Homo sapiens: one gene and its partners. The protein of the gene in region 3 purifies or fractionates together with the protein of the main gene of each other region. This does not show direct contact. Each region holds a gene or a part of one and is shown on either strand. Other genes may lie near its edges. The genes, in order: NUP35, AAMDC and GMIP.

The links.
Region 1: the proteins of GMIP (region 3) and NUP35 purify together in Homo sapiens (affinity purification with mass spectrometry; one large-scale study listed by BioGRID and IntAct). This does not show direct contact.
Region 2: the proteins of GMIP (region 3) and AAMDC purify together in Homo sapiens (affinity purification with mass spectrometry, with the first as the bait; one large-scale study listed by BioGRID). This does not show direct contact.

Annotation. Positions count from the first base shown.
Region 1 is NC_000002.12:183,148,335-183,151,988, forward strand, and holds part of NUP35 (nucleoporin NUP35), read left to right. Parts: intron 1-3,173; coding exon 3,174-3,315; intron 3,316-3,654. UniProt on the Homo sapiens protein: Functions as a component of the nuclear pore complex (NPC).
Region 2 is NC_000011.10:77,838,010-77,841,663, forward strand, and holds part of AAMDC (mth938 domain-containing protein), read left to right. Parts: intron 1-3,009; exon of another isoform or gene 3,010-3,176; coding exon of another isoform or gene 3,177-3,215; intron 3,216-3,654. UniProt on the Homo sapiens protein: May play a role in preadipocyte differentiation and adipogenesis.
Region 3 is NC_000019.10:19,633,628-19,637,281, reverse strand, and holds part of GMIP (GEM-interacting protein), read left to right. Parts: intron 1-252; coding exon 253-365; intron 366-485; coding exon 486-575; intron 576-1,560; coding exon 1,561-1,638; intron 1,639-1,712; coding exon 1,713-1,867; intron 1,868-2,068; coding exon 2,069-2,257; intron 2,258-2,352; coding exon 2,353-2,490; intron 2,491-2,578; coding exon 2,579-2,775; intron 2,776-3,091; coding exon 3,092-3,479; intron 3,480-3,654. UniProt on the Homo sapiens protein: Stimulates, in vitro and in vivo, the GTPase activity of RhoA.

The DNA of each region.
Region 1 (3,654 bases), on a different chromosome or scaffold from region 3:
GTTGGATTGAATGGTAGTTCTATTTTTAGTTCTTTGAGAAATCTCCATATGGCTTTCTATAGAGGTTGTACTAATTTACGTTCTCACCAACAGTGTATGAGTTCTCTTTTCTCTGCATCCTCGCCAGCATCTGTTTGTTTTTTTGTTTAACAATAGCCATTCTGACTAGGGTAAGGTGATGATGTAGTTTTGAATTGCATTTCTCTGATGATTTGTGATGTTGAGCATTTTTTCATATACCTCTTAGCCATTTGTATGTCTTTTGAAAAATGTCTATTCATGTTCTTTGCCCACTTCTTTAACAGGTTATTTTTATCAAATATATCTATAGATATATTTCGAGATGGAGTCTTAAACTCTGTCATTTAGGTTGGAGTGCAGTGGCATGATCTTGGCTCACTGTAACCTCCACCTCCCAGGCTCCAGTGATCCTTCCATCTCAGCCTCTCAAATAGCTGGGACCACAGGCACACACCACTACGCCCAGCTAATTTTTTGTATTTTTAGTAGAGATAAGGTTTTGCCATGTTGCCCAGGCTGGTCCTGAACTCCTAACTTGGCCTCCCAAAGCGCTGGGATTACAGTCACGAGCCACAGTGCAAAGCCAAGCTTTTTATCACAGTAGCTTTTCCCCCCACCTTCTATAGATAATCTTTTTTGTTTCTTAAGAACATACTTGGAGAAATCCATGTGACTATAAACACTTTGGAATGAGTTAGGATGGTTTTCAACTCATTTGGGAATTAAGGATAAATGGCAAGTCAGGAGATACATACAATAGTTAGAATATGTTAAGTAGCCTCTAGAAAATCAATAAAAATGGAGCATGACTCATGCGCATTGACCTGTAGAACAGTGGTTCTCAAATGTCTTAGTTTTGTAGTTTTTACCTTGTTTATACTCTTAAAAATTAAAGAGCTTTTGTTTATATAGATTATAGCTATCAATATTTACTGCATTCAAAATTAAAACAAAATTTAAAATTTAAGTATTAACTCATTTAAAAATAAAGCTATTTCATATAAACATAATCTTTTTTGAAGTGAACAGTAACTATTTTCTAAAGAAAAAAAGATTTGCAGGAAGAGTGACATTGTTTTTGTTTTAAAAATCTTTTTAGTGTCTGGCTTAATAAAATACCTGTGAATTCTCATGAATCTGCTTCTCTTTTCAACCTGAGTCTGTTGAATCACATGAAGTTGCCTCTGGAAAACTCCACTGTACACTAATAAGAGACTGAGAAAAAGGCAAATGAAACTTCATGTTTTTGTGAAAATAATTTTGAGTTGGCTGATCTCATGAGAGAGTCCTGGGGGAGCCAAGAATCTCCAGACCACACTTGTAGTACTGCCACAGGAAATAAACATGTTAACTAGATTACTGCCTCAGAGCTCATGCTTTGGATTCCGATTGCCTGGATTGGAATTCCAACTAACCTTCTGGATGTTATTTAATATTATCCTGTTTCCTAATTTGTTAAATGGACTAATTGGACCTTTTGTAGGATTGTTAGAATTAAATAAAATTACACTCGTAAAGTGTAATAATCACTTAATAAAATGCTACCTTTTTTTTAATTTTTTTATTTTTTTGAGACAGAGTCTCTCTGTCACCCAGGGTGTAATGCAGTGGTGCTATCTCAGCTCACTGCAACCTCCGCCTCCCGGGTTCAAGCGATTCTCCTGCCTCAGCCTTGAGAGGAGCTGGGATTACAGGCATGCACCACCACACCTGGCTAATTTTTGTGTTTTTAGTAGAGATGGGGTTTCACCATGTTGGCCAAGCCAGTCACAAACTCCTGACGTCATGATCCGCTCGCCTTGGCCTCCCAAAGTGTTGGGATGACAGGTGTGAGCCACTGGCCTGGCCCTTAAAATGCTACCTTTTACTATCAAAGTTTTAGTCCTGTTATGTCACGCTTGCTCAGATTTTTCTGTTGGTTTTCTACCTCGCTTAGAGCTTTAGCTTTTACAGTGGCTTTATAAGGTTTTTCTTCATGATCCGGCATATTGCTGCCTCTCTGCTCGCATCTCCTTGTTCTCATCTCACATCCCCCTCACTGTGCAAACAGTGGCCTTCTTGCGTTCATCTAAGACCAATCATGTCTTTCCTCATGGCCTTTGTTTTATTATTTTCTCCACAAAATGTTCACTTCTTCAAATATTGTTTTGCTTCCCTTGTCCTTCAGGTTTTTGCTTTAATGCACCTCAGTGAAATCCTTTTTCATTTAACCCACCCACACAAATTGGCCCTGTCTCCCTTCTCTGCTTTATTTTTTTTTCTCTGTAGGATTTTTAGTTTTGTAGCACATTAAGTATTTACTTATTTGTCTCTCTTTCGCTAGAATGTAGGCTCCAATAGGGATGGATTTTTTGTTTTTATTTGTCTAATGTGTTTACTGCTATACCTTCAATACCTAGGTTGATGCTTGGTGCATATTTAAGTGCTGATAAAATATGTTTTGAATGAGTAAATCATTATTGCTACTGTGAAGATGAAAGGGAAATAGTCTTTGCTTCTCTCAAATGTATAGCCTTAATTGGACATTGCTTCTGATATAAAATGAACTTTATAAAGTGTTTAGCATGGCATGTTGGACACACAGAAGTACTCAATTGGTGGCTGTTACTGAAGAATAAGAAATAAAAGGATAAGACATTTTAGAAAGAAATGACCTGAATAAAAGAAAATTGCATTCACATTTTAAGGGGTAAGGTAGATATTGTTTAGTGCATACTGGAAAAGTAAGGTTGCAACTGTATAGCTGAGGCCAAGGCATTCGGATTTTGTTCTGTGGGTAATACATTTTTACATGTTCTTAAGGCAGAGGTGCTGTGATGAAAGTGGTAGGTTTGGAAGATGAAACCAACAGAAGTCTTTGAGGTTGCCTGGGATATCCTTCTGGTGTCAGCTTAACCAGACATGCTTAATAAAACATTTAGATAATTTATCATACATAATAAAACATTTGCAGAATTATAAACTATGCCCAATTATTACTTCCTCTAATTGTATGGTAGCATGAAATTGCTATTTGACCACAGTTGTATGTTTTGAACTGTTTATGTAATTGCCAACTTTATTAGACTTTATCATTTAAAACTAAGATTTTTGATTTAGAATCAATCGAGGTGTTTACACTGGCAACTAACTTGCTAAATATACTAATATAGGGCAAAGTATGTTTAGTCCAGCAAGTATCGGTCAGCCACGAAAGACGACATTATCTCCTGCCCAGTTGGATCCTTTTTATACTCAAGGAGATTCTTTGACTTCAGAAGATCACCTCGATGACTCTTGGGTGACTGTATTTGGGTAAGGTTTGCAGACCATTTGCCTTTTAAAAACCCCACCCTAACATTTTATAATGAATATAATCAAACATACAGTAAAATGGAAAGAAGTGCATAGCAAACACCCATATTACTACCACCTAGGTTCTATGGTTAACAGTTTGCTACATTTGCTTTGTCATTTATCCATCTATCAATTCATTCTTTTTGTTGGTACATTTCATAATAAGTTGTAGACATCAATACATATTACCCTGACACTTGAGCATGCATGTCATTAACTAGAGTTTGATATTTGTTTGTAGTTTTTTAAATCATTTGTCTGTTTATTTCTTCCCAAATTATTTTCTCTCAAGCATAT
Region 2 (3,654 bases), on a different chromosome or scaffold from region 3:
TTGCAGTGAGCTAAGATCACACTACTGCACTCCAGACTGGATGAAAGAATGAGACACTGTCTCTTTGATATTAATAATAAGTTGAACTTGCAAAAATGGGTTATTAGTTATTAATGTTAATCAGAAGTAAGACTTTCTAATCGTCTTTAGTTGGAGATTAAATATGGTTAAGGAGACACATATAGGTGCCAAATTGACAAGATGTAGACTGTGACTGTTAGTTTTATGTGTCAACGTGGTAAGGTTATAGTACGGTTATTTAATCAAATACTAATCTAAGTGTTGCTGTGAACATACCTTGTAGATATGGTTAACATCTACAGTCAGTAGACTAGTGTATATATGAGATTATATCCTTGATACACTGAGTTGGCCTCTTCCAATCAGTTTAAAGTCCAAGCAAAACTGATGTTTCCTTGAAGAAGAAATACTGCCTCAGTACCATAACAACTCTTGCCCAAGGGTGAGCAGCTTACCAGTATTATCTATACATTTTGGACTTGCCAGCCTCCAAAATTTTGTGAGCCACTTTTTTGAAACAAGTCTGTCAATATTTATAGTCATCTGCTTCTGTTTCTCTGGATAACCCTGACTGATACAAGTACCTTTTTTTTTTTTTTTTTTTGAGACAGAGTCTCGCTCTTTTGCCCAGGCCAGACTGCAGTGGCATTATCTGGGCTCACTGTAAGCTCCGCCTCCCGGGTTCACGCCATTCTCCTGCCTCAGCCTCTCGAGTAGCTGAGACTACAGGCGCCCACCACTGCGCCCAGCTATTTTTTTGTATTTTTAGTAGAGACGGAGTTTCACCGTGTTAGCCAGGATGGTCTCAATCTCCTGACCTCGTGATCCGCCCACCTGGGCCTCCCAAAGTGCTGGGATTACAGGCGTGAGCCACCGCGCCCAGCAATACAAGTACCTTTTACTTACTGTGCTTACCAGTGCTAGAATTTCCATTTTATTCCTTTTTGAAGTGTTTCCTTATTGAGATTCTGTATTTGCTGAGTCATTGTTACCATATTTTTGTTTATTTCTTTGTGCTTTATTTCCCTTATACTACTTTCTTTGAAGTCTTTGCTAAATGTCAGACTTCTGAGAATACTCAATTACTCAGATACAGTTTCTTTTTTAATTAATTAATTAATTTTTGGAGACAGAGTCTTGCTCAGTCACCCAGGCTGGAGTATAGTGGCAAGATCATTGCTCACTGCAGCCTCAAACTCATGGGCTCAAGTGATCCTCCTGCCTCAGCCTCCTGAGTAGCTAGCACTATAGGTGCAAAGCCAACACACTTGGCTTTTTTTTGTTTGTTTGTTTTTGTAGAAACCAGGTCTCCCAATAGGAATGCTTTTACACTATTGGTGGAAATGTAAATTAGTTCAACCTTTGTGGAAGACAGTGGGGCAATTCCTCAAAGACCTAGAACTAGAAATGCCATTTGACCCACCAATCCCATTACTGGGTATATACCCAGAGGAATATAAATCATTCTGTTATAAAGAGAAATGCACACATATATTCATTGCAGCACTGTTTACAATAGCGAAGACATGGAATCAACCCATATGCCCATCAGTGATAGACTGGATAAAGAAAATATGGTACCTCTACACCATGGTATACTATGCAACCATAAAGGGGAACAAGATCATGTCCTTTGCAGGGACACAGATGGAGCTGGAAGCCATTATCCTCAGCAGACTAACACAGGAACAGAAAACTGAACAGCACATGTTCTCACTTATAAGTGGGTGCTGAACAATGAGAACACATGGACACAGGGAGGGGAACAACACACACTGGGGCTTGCTGGTGGGGGTCAGGGGGAGGGAGAGCATCAGGATAAATAGCTAATCCATGTGGGGCTTAATACCTAGGTGATGGGTTGATAGGTGCAGCAAACCACCATGGCACATGTGTACCTATGTAATGAACGTGCATGTCTTACACATGTATCCTGGAACGTAAAAAAGATGTTACATGCATATAACAATTTCCAAGATATTGGAAAGCAAAAAAGCAAAATAAAGACCAGGGTTGATAGCATGTTATCATTTCTGTAATATTAGAGTATGGAGAGGGGGACAGTAAACACACACACACACACACACACAACACCCAGGGATTTGAATGATTAATGCACAATATACCCTTGAAAAGAAACATGAAAACTAGGTATCTGGGGTTCATGGGAGCAAGGAAACTTTCACTTTCTACTGTTTAGTACCTTTTGAATTAAAAGTATCTTTAAGTGGCTCACGCCTGTAATCCCAGCACTTTGGGAGGCCAAGGCAGGTGGATCACCTGAGGTCAGGAGACCAAGACCAGCCTGGCCAACATAGTGAAACCCTGTCTCCACCAAAAATACAAAAATTAGCCGGGCATGGTAGCACATGCCTGTAATCCCAGCTACTTGGGAGGCTGAGGCAGGATAATCACTTGAACCCCGGAGGTGGAGGTTGCAGTGAGCCAAGATCGCACCACTGCACTCCAGCCTGGGCAACAGAGCCAGACTCCATCTCAAAAGAAAAAAAAGTGTTTAATGTATTTCTATTAGAAAAATAAAATTCTAATAAAAACATAAAAGAAACTGGGTATCCCTATGTTACCCAGGCTGGTCTTGAAATTCTGGCCTCAAGTGAAATTCCCACCTTGGCCTCCCAATGTGCTGGGATTACAGGCATGAGCCACCACACTCAGCCCCAGGTAACAGTTTCAGTTTACTGAGTGTGGGTCATAGTTTTTGTTTATTTGCATGCCTTGTAATTTTTTGTTGAAGAGTGACATTTTAGATAACATATTGTAGGACAGTGTGGATGGCATCCAGCCTGGCGAAACAACTTTTCCCCCTGAAAGTTGTTCTTCTGTTTATTTGTGTGTGGGGGTTTAGCCATTTGCCTATACTAAATGTCTTAATCCATTTTGTGCTTAATCCATGTTGTGCTCCTATAACTGAATACCTGAAACTGGGTAATTTAAAATTTATAATGAAAATAATTTTTTTTCTCACAGTTCTGGAGGCTGGGAAGTCCAAGACCAGTTGGCTCGCATCTGGTGAGAGCCTTCTTGCTGCATCATCCTATAGTGGAAGTCATCACATGGTGGAAGCACCAAGAGAGGGCCATACTTGTCCTTTTATAATGAACCTACTACTCCTGCAATAACAGCATAATCTATTCATGAGGGTGGAACCCTCATGGCCTAATCAGCTCTTAAAGGTCCCACCTCTTAATGTTGTTATAATGGCAGTTAAATTTAAACATGAGTTTGGAAGGGTGCAGACATTCAAACCATAGCACTAAACTAAATCTATGAATTCTCCCATGCAATATGTGTCTACTTTAGTCTCTGTTCTGTTAGAGTTTTTTCCTTGATTTTATTCTTAAACCCAGTTTCCCAAGATTCTCCTTGGTGTGTATATAGCTTAGTGTTCAGCCAAACATTAATTAAACATTTGGCTCAAACACCTTGAGGCAGTAAGACTTTCTCTCTCTACTGATGGAACACTGTGTGTACAGGGGAGTGCGTTCAAAGTCCAGCTGTTGTATGTCTTCACTGGCTTTTACATTCTGCAAGGCCCTCTTGAACCTTCTTGCTTATCCACTGTGTATGTGCTGAGGATCCATTAGCCCAGAATGTTTGGGTGTCTTGGGTCTA
Region 3 (3,654 bases):
TTAGAGAACGCAAAGCCTTAGTGGAATTTAGTACTCCAGGCTCTCGGGGGCCATAGGAGGGTGAATGGGTTGTCCCAGTCCTAGGGGCAGGGGCAGGAATGTGGGGCTACTGTATTTCAGGGGCCACAATGCCCTGGGTGTCAGGGTTTGCAGACCCAAGTGCTTGGAGTTGGTACCTAGACATGATGCCTGGGTGCCATCACCCCAGGCCAGTTTCCTGGGATTCAAACCTTCAAACTTCTGTCTTCTCAGCTCCCCTCTGGACATCAGAAAGAAGCTCTCTGGGCCTCTTCCTCCAAGGCTGGATGAGAATTCAGCTGAGCCAGGCCCTTGGGAGGATCCGGGCACAGGCTGGCGCTGGCAAGGTGAGTGCAATGAGGGCCAGGTGGGAGTGGTGCCAGGAGTTCGTTCCACCAACACATAGGTGGGCTGCAGGAGTGGGGTTTGTGAGCAGGGGACCATCCTTATTGACCTGTGCCACCTAGGGACTCCAGGCCCCACTCCGGGCAGCGATGTGGACAGCGTGGGTGGCGGCAGCGAGTCTCGGTCCCTGGACTCACCCACTTCCAGCCCAGGTAGGGATAGGACCTGGTCCTGACCCACACTCCACCTGTGACCATCCTCCAGCCCCTGGCCAAGCTCTGACCCTCAATCTTTAACTATCTTTGACCTCTGACCTACCCCACACCCCTGACCTATTTCCTCAACCTCTTTTTTTACCTTTTTAAAAATTATTTATTTATTTATTTGTTTGTTTATTTGAGACAGTCTCATTCTGTCGCCCAGCCTGGAGTGCAGTGGCGTGATCTCGGCTCACTGCAACCTCCACCTCCCAGATTCAAGCGATTCTCCTGTCTCAGCCTCTGGAGTAGCTGGGATTACAGGTGTGCACTACCACGCCGGCTGATTTTTGTATTTTTTAGTAGAGACGGGGTTTCACCATGTTGGCCAGGCTGATCTCGAACTCCTGACCTCAGGTGATCCACCTGCCTCGGTCTCCCAAAGTGCAGGGATTACAGGTGTGTGCCACCACGCCCGGCCTTTTCTTTTCTTTTCTTTCTTTCTTTTTTTTTTTTTTGAGACAGAGTCTTGCTCTGTTGCCCAGGCTGGAGCGCAGTGGTACGATCTTGGCTCACTGCAACCTCCGCCTCCCAGGTTCAAGCGATTCTCGTGCCTCAGCCTCCCGAGTAGCTGGGACTACAGGTGCCTGCCACCATGCCTGGTTAATGTTTGTATTTTTAGTAGAGACAAGGTTTTGCCATGTTGGCCAGGCTGGTGTCAAACTCCTTGCCTCATGTGATCCTCCTGCCTCAGCTTCCCAAAGTGCTGGGATTACAGGTGTGAGCCACTGCGCCCGGCCTATTTCCTCAACCTCTTGATCCAGCTTATGAACCACCCCCCTCAGGTTGCTGACCCAATTCTCCAACCCTTAACCACTGACCTGTCCAATCCCCCTCCTGACCTCTGACCCCTTGGGAATTAGTGGGTGGTTCTGGAAGCCCTAAAAACCAGGAGTGCCTCCCATAGCCCAGGAATCTCCCATGATTCCTCTGACCCCAGGCGCTGGCACGAGGCAGCTGGTGAAGGCTTCGTCCACAGGCACTGAGTCCTCAGATGACTTTGAGGAGCGAGACCCTGGTGAGGCTGAAGCAGGGTAGGTCAGGATGGGACAGGGCAGGGCACCAGGCACTCCTGACCCTGTCTCCCTGCAGACCTGGGAGACGGGCTGGAGAATGGGCTGGGCAGCCCCTTCGGGAAGTGGACACTGTCCAGCGCGGCTCAGACCCACCAGCTGCGGCGACTGCGGGGCCCAGCCAAGTGCCGCGAGTGCGAAGCCTTCATGGTCAGCGGGACGGAGTGTGAGGAGGTGTGGCCTGGGTTAATGACCAAATGACCTTTGCTGACCCTTGATCATCTCCCTGACCTGAGATTCCTACAGCCTTTCTGCCCCTGGGACCCACCCTAACCTGATGTCTCCCATGAGCCCCCATTCCTTGAGGATCCTTGTAACCTTCTCTTCCCCTACTGGTCCCTAATGACCTCCCTGTCCCTGTGACCTTCCCCACAGTGCTTTCTGACCTGCCACAAGCGCTGCCTGGAGACTCTCCTGATCCTCTGTGGACACAGGCGGCTCCCAGCCCGGACACCCCTTTTTGGGGTTGACTTCCTGCAGCTACCCAGGGACTTCCCGGAGGAGGTACCCTTTGTGGTCACGAAGTGCACGGCTGAGATAGAACACCGTGCCCTGGATGTGCAGGTGCTGCCCTGACCCTTCATCATCCCCAGAAGTGACCTGACCGAATCGATGGCCTATCACGAACCAGGTGTCTGTTTTTCACCCTCACCCTGCAGGGCATTTACCGGGTCAGCGGGTCCCGGGTCCGTGTGGAGCGGCTGTGCCAGGCTTTCGAGAATGGCCGAGCGTTGGTGGAGCTGTCGGGGAACTCGCCTCATGACGTCTCGAGTGTCCTCAAGCGATTTCTTCAGGAGGTTGGTGCTCAGGACACTGAGGGGGACGCGGGCAGGAGCCCTCCACAGCCCACCCACACTCGTGTTGCGCCCTCCGTTCCACCCCCAGCTCACCGAGCCCGTGATCCCCTTCCACCTCTACGACGCCTTCATCTCTCTGGCTAAGACCTTGCATGCAGACCCTGGGGACGACCCTGGGACCCCCAGCCCCAGCCCTGAGGTTATCCGCTCGCTGAAGACCCTCTTGGTACAGCTGCCTGACTCTAACTACAACACCCTGCGGCACCTGGTGGCCCATCTGTTCAGGTGTGCATGGGTCCCTGAGCCTTGAAACGCGACCCTTTTCCCTGGACATGCGACTACTAACTTCCCTGGCTGACCCCTGACACTGACCTCTGACCTTTGACCTGTGTTTTCTGAACTCTGAACCTTAATCCATGATTCATAACTTTGGGTACTGACCCCTGACCTCCAGTTCTGGATATGTGGCTGCTGGTCTCAGACGACTTACACCTGTGACATGGGCAAGTCACCTCTAGGCTGGCCTGCGTGTCCCACCCTTACCCTCAGACCAATGAGCTTGCATCCTGTACCCTGACCTTTCTCTTCACACCATCCCCAGGGTGGCTGCACGATTTATGGAAAACAAGATGTCTGCCAACAACCTGGGCATTGTGTTTGGGCCGACACTGCTGCGGCCGCCGGACGGCCCGCGGGCAGCCAGCGCCATCCCTGTCACCTGCCTGCTGGACTCTGGGCATCAGGCCCAGCTTGTGGAGTTCCTCATCGTGCACTACGAGCAGATCTTTGGGATGGATGAGCTCCCCCAGGCCACTGAGCCCCCGCCCCAAGACTCCAGCCCAGCCCCTGGGCCCCTCACAACCAGCTCCCAACCGCCACCCCCGCACCTTGACCCAGACTCCCAGCCCCCAGTCCTAGCCTCAGACCCCGGCCCAGACCCCCAGCACCACAGTACCCTGGAGCAGCATCCCACGGCCACACCTACCGAGGTAAGAACCCACTGGGCCCACAGCTATGGAGAGGGCCTTATCTCTGTTCAATTCTCTTACCTTCTCTTTCACCTTCCTTCCTTTTTAAAATTTCCTTCATTCTCTTCCTCCCTTCCTCATTTAACTTATGTTCATTCTGGAAGGAATAGTGAGGAATGAGCAGTGGGCAGTGATG